Linked DNA regions of Homo sapiens. The protein of the gene in region 1 purifies or fractionates together with the protein of each later gene. This does not show direct contact. Each region holds a gene or a part of one and is shown on either strand. Other genes may lie near its edges.

Region 1 (3,500 bases):
AGGTAATACTTTGTAATTCTTTCTAAACAAACTCCAGGCCCCTGTTACTGTTTAGGCTCTCTAGAGAATAACACTGATAAATAACTTTAGCAACATTCAAATAAATCTGTTGCACTTCAAATTAATTGCAAGAAAGTATGAAAATCTAGGGTTGCTGTTCTTCTTTGGTGCCATTGTTTACATTTTGCTATATTACCTAAAAGATGTTTTTTTGTTTTTTTGTTTGAGGCAGCGTCTCACTGTGTCACCCAGACTGGAGTGCAGTGGCACAATCTCTGCTCACTGCAACCTCCACTTCCCGGGTTCAAGCAATTCTCCTGCCTCAGCTTCCCAAGTAGCTGGGATTACAGGTGCCTGCCACAAGGCCTAGCTAATTTTTGTATTTTTAGTAGTGACAGGGTTTTGCCACATTGTCCAGGGTGGTCTCAAACTCCTGACGTCAAGTGATCCACCTTCCTCGTCTTCCCAAAGTGCTGGGATTACAGGCATGAGCTACCATGCCCGGCCCCTGAAAGATGTCTTTAACACCTACTTTGAGTTATAAAAATGCTTGGTGCTGGCCAGGCAAGGCGGCTTATGCCTGTAATCCCAACATTTTGGGAGACTGGGGCTGGAGAATCACTTGAGCTCAGGAGTTCAAGACCAGCCTGGACAACATAGTGAGGTCTTGTCTCTAATAAAAATCAAAGAAATAAAAAAAAAATCACATGGTGACACACACCTGTAGACCCAGCTACTTGGGAGGCGGAGGCAAAATGATCGCTTGAGCCCAGGAGGTCGAGGCTGCAGTGAGCCATGATTGTACCACTACACTCCAGCCTGGGTGACAAAGGGAGACTCTGCCTCAAAAAAAAAAAAAAAAAAAAAAAAAAAGCTTGATCCCAAATCAGTAAAAGAATTATTTCTTTATGTATGTTCTTAAAAACAAATTTTTGCTCACTTTGTGTCCGTGAGACTAGGTGATTCAGCCAACTATTTTTAAAACGGCAGTTTTCTAATAATCTTTTTTTTCTTACAGTCTTGTGCTGCCTCCAACCCAGTCCTCTTCAGATTCCTCACCCCCGGAGGTGTCTGGCCCTTCCTCATCCCAAATGAGCATGAAAACTCGCCGACTCAGCTCTGCCTCAACAGGAAAGCCCCCACTCTCTGTGGAGGATGATTTTGAGAAACTAATATGGGAGATTTCAGGAGGCAAATTGGAAGCTGAGATTGACCTGGATCCTGGGAAAGATGAAGATGACCTTCTGCTTGAGCTATCAGAAATGATTGATAGCTGAAGGTGGTAGTGAGGACACTTTAAAAAAAAAATCGCCAAAAAACTGGACTTAGTTTCATCTATTGTAACATTTACCTGAGATGATCATTTCTTTAGTCTAGAATTTGCCCCAAATCAGAAGTATACCTCTGAATTATCTGTATGTGTCCTGGATTCCTTGGGGTCAGATTTTTAAAGTTACTTTATAACCATTTTGTCCATTTGATGCCATTGTTTATCATCTTTTGAGAAAAAAGTTCTGTCATACCCTTCTCTCCACAAAAAAGAGACTGAGAGGGAGATCAAGTGAAAGGGTGCAAGCGAACTTAGTGACTCCTTGAGGTGTTTGTCAGTTTTGGCTTTTTTCTTCTTTGTTGTATTCTTTATGTATTGTCTTGATGTACTTAATATTACCTGAGTTTGAAATGGATGAAGACAGCTGCTACCATTAAGGACCAAATTTTATGCTACCACTAAACAAAAATACCCACTCAGTCTGTGTTAAATTGTATGTCTTTTTAAAGGTATTTAAAGATTCAACTAAGCTTTAAAGAGGGCTGAGCAGCTCAGGAAGCCTGTAATGTGGGCATAACTCTTTGGACCTGATCTTGATGCTTCTGCTGCTCTGTTAGCCTCTGAAGAGCAATATCTAATTTATTATTACTGTAATTTTTTAAAAGGCTTTAAAGTGCCTCAGGGGTCCCCTGAAACTAATTTTCTATTTCTGGGATTCCCTGGATTCATTATATGAGATGGTGACATGATTAGAGGAATTCTTTTTTAGTATGAAAATTGTCCTTTTTCTTCTTCAGTACTTGCCTCCTTGCTGGCATTGAATTAACACAGGGACAAAATTTGGTTAATTTTTTATTTCTAACTCTCCCAACAAACCCCTGTTGCCCAGTATTTGTTTGGTGGCCTTTAACCACCTGAGGGAAAAAATGAGCTTATTCAAGCTGCCAATATTTATCTATGGGCTGTAGCAGTACACTGAATTGTACTGTGCCAGGGATATTGAGATGCTCTGGGGGTGTATTGTATACCTGCCAGTTTTCTTCATTTCTGAATTGAGTTTTCTTTTCTTGATGTTGGTTTCCTTCATATCACCTCAAGGTTTAGATTTGTGAAGGAATAAGCATGATGGAAATAATAGTCTTGAAAGGAGATATGTTGTATATAATCAGGAGGAAGAGGAAGGAAGGACTTACCCATTTTGATATTTTGCTGTAGGTGGCCAGTTTTGTTTCTCATAGGGAAATCTGACCCACCTGTCATGTTGGCTCCTAAGGAACTGCTGTTGTAAGCGGCTCATCAAGAGTTGAACTTCACGTAGCCTTGTTGGGAATATGGAAAAGGAAGAAAGCCACAGGACTGCCCATTCAGTCTTGGGAAGATTGGGATGATTCTGCACAAGCAAAAATGACTGAAGTTTATGTATAGACACACCTCTACCAATCCATCTTCAGCTGACTGAATGTTGTATGATAGCCCTTCTCCAAAGCAGAGGTAGAATGTTCAGGTTTCACCATGGATTTTCTACTTATTTCGTTTTTGGAATCAGCTTACAGATTCCAGGTCCCTTTTGTATATATTCTTTATTCTTTTGCTTTTTTAAAAAATAATTTTGTTTCATATTTAAAGCACTTGTATTAGTCAATGTTTCGTGTTCCGCATTATTTGAACCATTTGCCCTTACAGAAAGAGAAATACTTGTTTGTGTTTTAAATAAAACTGATGTAGGAAAGTCTTGATGTTGTGAGCTAAGTAATCTTACATCATCATATCAGCCTGGGATCCATCTTGACAAGAGACCCCAGACAGAATGCTATTGGCCTTTCGTGTAAGTGCCCGAATTTCAGTTATTATTTGGCTTAGAAACCTTTCATCTGGATATATTGCCAAATTTACAAGTGTGCTCAATTTTAGCTGCATATGCTTTAGGTAAGAATTTATATTATTATAATGTGAGGATTTTTTTTCTGACACGGATACTTACTCCTTAGTGTTGTAACTCAAGCAATGCCATTAAGTTTTTAAAAGGAGGGAGGGTTTAAAAGTGATCTTAGGGAGTCTCTCTGGGCCTACTCTGGCTCAAGAGGCTGATAAAAAATAAATAAATGAATAAACTTGATCTTTAGAGTCAACGATTTAGAATTTTCAAGCATGAAGGTGCAGCAGATAAGAAATTTAATTTATAGAAGTCCAGGTTTCTTAATATGTGTGCCAATTTTTAAAATTGTAGGAA
Region 2 (4,140 bases), on another chromosome or scaffold:
CTCAGCTCACTGCAACCTCTGCCTCCTGGGTTCAAGTGATTCTCCTGCCTCAGCCTCCTGAGTAGCTGGGATTACAGGCATGCACCACCACGTCCGGCTAATTTTGTATTTTTAGTAGAGACAGGGTTTCTCCATATTGGCCAGGCTGGTCTCGAACTCCCGACCTCAGGTGATCCGTCCACCTCAGCCTCCCAAAGTGCTGGGATTACAGGTGTAATCCCACTGCGAGCCACAAGCCACCGCACCCGGCCCACCCTGGCCTTCTTTACATTCACACCTTAAGGTGTGTGTACTTGCTATTTCCTTGCTCTTCTCAAAACTGGCTCCTTCTTTGCATTCAGGTGTTAGCTCAAATGTCACCTCGGAGAGAACTTTCCTGACTGTCTTTCATACACCTCAAACCAGTCTGTCACAGCCCTGTTTCATTTTCCTCATAGCATTTATCAGTGTATGAAACTATACCGTTCATCTGTCTGGTTCTTCCCTCTAAAATGTGAGTTCCATGACAGAAGTAAACTAATAAATGACTTCTACTGCAAAAATGCAGGTATATGGGGAAAGAGACCTCTAATCTCGTTTAAGTTGTCAGGAAAAGCCTCTCTAAAGTAGTGTAGAAGGCTGAGAATGAATAAAGGAAGGTGGGGAGAAAAAAAATGAGGATTCCTAGCAGAGGAACAATGTTGAAAAGCCAGGAGATGAAAGATAGCATGGCACATTCAAATAAACGAAGTTCTGTACAGCTAAGGCACAGAGTTAGAAAGGAAGAGGAAAAAGAGGAAACTGAAGATATAAGCACAGGTCAAATCACACAACACTATGAAGGATTTCAGCCGTTAACCTAAGGGTAATTAGAATTCTTTAAAGATTTCTTTTTTTTTGCTTCGTTTTTAGACGGAGTTTTGCTCTTGTTGCCCAGGCTGGAGTGCAATGGTGCGATCTTGGCTCATTGCAACCTCCGCCTCCCGGGTTCAAGCAATTCTCCTGCCTCAGCCTCCCGAGTAGCTGGGATTACAGGCATGCACCACCAAGCCTGCCTACTTTTGTATTTTTAGTAGAGACAGGGTTTCTCCATGTTGGTCAGGCTGGTCTCGAACTCCCGACCTCAGGTGATCGACCTGCCACGGCCTCCCAAAGTGCTGGGATTACAGGCATGAGCCATCGCGCCCGGCTGAAGATTTTAAGGACAGCCAGCCTTAGTGTAGTCCCTGTAGTCCTAGCTACAAGGGAGGCTGAGGTGGAAGGCTCACTGGAGCCCAGCCAACATAGTGAGACCCTATCTTGAAAGAAGAAAAGGAAGGAAAGGAAGGAAGAGATTTTTTTTTTTTTTTGAGACGGAGTCTCGCACTGTTGCCCAGGCTGGAGTGCAGTGGCGCGATCTCGGCTCACTGCAAGCTCCGCCTCCCGGGTTCACGCCATTCTCCTGCCTCAGCCTCCCGAGTAGCTGGGACCAAAGGCACCTGCCACCATGCCCGGCTAATTTTTTTTCTTTTTATTTTTAGTAGAGACGGGGTTTCACCGTGTTAGCCAGGATGGTCTCGATCTCCTGACCTCGTGATCCGCCCGCCTCGGCCTCCCAAAGTGCTGGGATTACAGGCGTGAGCCCCTGCGCCCGGCCGGAAGGCAGAAATTTTAAGAAGGCAAGTGATATGATGAGATTTGCACTTGTATGAAATCACTCGGAAAGCAACATGAAGAATGGGCTAGAGCAGAGCAAGAGGAAGGACAATATAACAGATTACGATACCTTGGTCCAGGCAGAAAACAATGGCAACCAAGCTTAGGGTGACAGAGATGTAGAACACCAGATAGATTCAAAAGATATTTAGAATGTAGAAATGTAGGGACTAAGGGAAAGGGAGGATTCAAAATCACTCCCTAGGCTTCTGCCCTGGCAAATCTGTTGAGACAAGGAATAAAGAATAAAGAAGCAGGTGGGCATGATAACTTCTACATTGAACTACTTACACTCTTATGCAATTCACAAATAAATAATAAGAATGAGGAATGATGCTGACAACCACAGGACTGTGGTTCCCTATCCAAAGCCAACTGTGGCTCACAATGCAAGATAGTAAACAGATTCTAAATGAACGCTCTCAAACTACAGAATTACTCTGTTTTTAGATAGGTCTATTTGGAGGTGTCTTGTCAGTTTCTCATCGCTGCTCAAAAACTCAGGACACTCTAAGGACCAGGAAAAAGCCTACTCCTACTTGAAGAGGCAGTCCAGCATCACTCTGCTGCGAAGCCTACTTGCCAGTCTCAGATAGACTGGGGTGTTCCCTCCTCTCTGAATCCATTGCTCCTGAGACAAACTCCAACACAGCAAAACTCATACAGTAGTTTTATTTTCATGCGTCTGTCTTCCTTGGGCCATGAACTCCCCAGGGCAGGGCAGCTTCTTTCACCACGGTATGCCCAGCACCTAGCATAGTGGCCGGCACGGAGCTGATACTCAGTAAAAAGACGTGTGTGAATCAATTAACAAACGAATGCCTCCTCCGGACTCCTAAATCCTGAAAAAAAACCCCACCACCAGGCCTCGGGGCCACGACGTCCATACCCACTCACACACACCAGACTCGCCCGAGCTCACCTGGGTCACGAACTCCGCATTGATTTGGGACACCGTAGGGGCCACGATCTTCTTGGGCTGCGCAGGGGCTGCCATGGCAGCACTCTTCCCTCCACTCCAGTGGAAACTAAAGGACCGCTCTGGGCAGCGGCAACCCTGGTCCACTTCCCTTAAGTTACTGCCGGGGCGCTTAACTCCGCGCCGCACAAACGCTCCGGGCCGGATATCCTCAGCCTTCAGAGTCCCGTAGGGAACCCGTACAACAGCCCAAGCGTTCCTCGGGAAGCGGAATGGCGTGTAGCCGGAAGTTCATGCAGGCGTTGGGGCTGAGCTAGCGAGCCAAGAGCTTTGACCTCCTCTGTACACGCCCTCTAGCGGGCGGCAGAGAGAAGACACCTCGCTGGCGGGATTAGGAGGGCAAGGGAGGGACCCGGTGGATGGTGTTGGGTGGGGTTTCTCGTGGTTAGTGAAGAGTGCCGTGTGCGGTGAATGGGGATTTAGTTTTTTTTCAACCCTAAAGAAAAAACAAAACAAAACAAAAAAAACAGCCTGGGAATATGGGCTGGGTTTTAACTGCCCTTAACAGTGTTTTAGTTTAGTTTTGTTTTTTTTGAGACGGAGTTTCGCTCTTGTTGCCCAGGCTGCAATGCAATGGTGCAATCTCGGCTCACAGCAACCTCTGCCTCCCGGGTTCAAGCGATTCTCCTGCCTCAGCCTCCCGTGTTGTTGGGATTACAGGCATGCGCCACCATGCACAGCTAATTTTTGTATTTTTAGTAGACACAGGGTTTCTCCGTATTGGTCAGGCTGGTCTCGAACTCACCAACTTTAGGTAATCCGCCTGCCTCAGGGTCCCAAAGTGCAGGGATTACAGGCCTTAACAGTTTTATGGAGGTAAAAATTGACATACAATAACCCAGCCAGGCGCGGTAGTCACGCCTGTAATCCCAGCGTTTTGGGAGGCTGAAGCTGGCCGATTGCCTGAGGTCAGGAGTTTGAGACCAGCCTGGCTAACATGGTGAAAACCCATCTCTACTAAAAAACAAAATTTAGCCGGGCGTGGTGGCGCGCGCCTGTAGTTCCAGCTACTCGGATTCAGGAGAATAATCACTTGAAGCTGGGAGGCGGAGGTTGCAGTGAGCCGAGATTGCGCCATTGCACTCCAGCTTGGTGACAGAGCGAGACTAGCCTCAAAAAATAAAAATAAAATAATAATAAAAATAATTCACATACAATAACCCACACATATTTAGGTTGTAAAATTTGATGCGTTTTGACATGAACATACATTTGTGAAACTATTGCCAAAATCATAATGAGCATATCAAAGCCTCTAAAAGTTTCCTCGTGAACTTTTGCTATCTGTGCCTTTCACTGTTCCCACCCACTTTTCAGGCAACCACTGATCTGCTTTCTGTCACTATAGTTTGCTTTTCATGGAATTTTATATAAATGAAATAATACAGTGCATGCCTTCTTTCACTCAACGAAATGATTTTGAGATGGATTCATGTTGTTGCATGTATCAGTAGTTCATTCCTTTTTTATTGCTTAACATTCGTTCC

Evidence for each region. The genes of interacting proteins can lie anywhere in the genome.
Region 2: the proteins of ZC3H11A (region 1) and AQR purify together in Homo sapiens (affinity purification with mass spectrometry; one large-scale study listed by BioGRID and IntAct). This does not show direct contact.

The regions. Positions count from the first base shown.
Region 1 is NC_000001.11:203,851,123-203,854,622, forward strand, and holds the end of ZC3H11A (zinc finger CCCH domain-containing protein 11A), read left to right. Parts: coding exon 1-2; intron 3-1,018; coding exon 1,019-1,277; 3' UTR 1,278-3,002; downstream 3,003-3,500. UniProt on the Homo sapiens protein: Through its association with TREX complex components, may participate in the export and post-transcriptional coordination of selected mRNA transcripts, including those required to maintain the metabolic processes in embryonic cells.
Region 2 is NC_000015.10:34,966,943-34,971,082, forward strand, and holds the start of AQR (RNA helicase aquarius), read right to left. Parts: upstream 2,801-4,140; 5' UTR 2,672-2,800; coding exon 2,597-2,671; intron 1-2,596.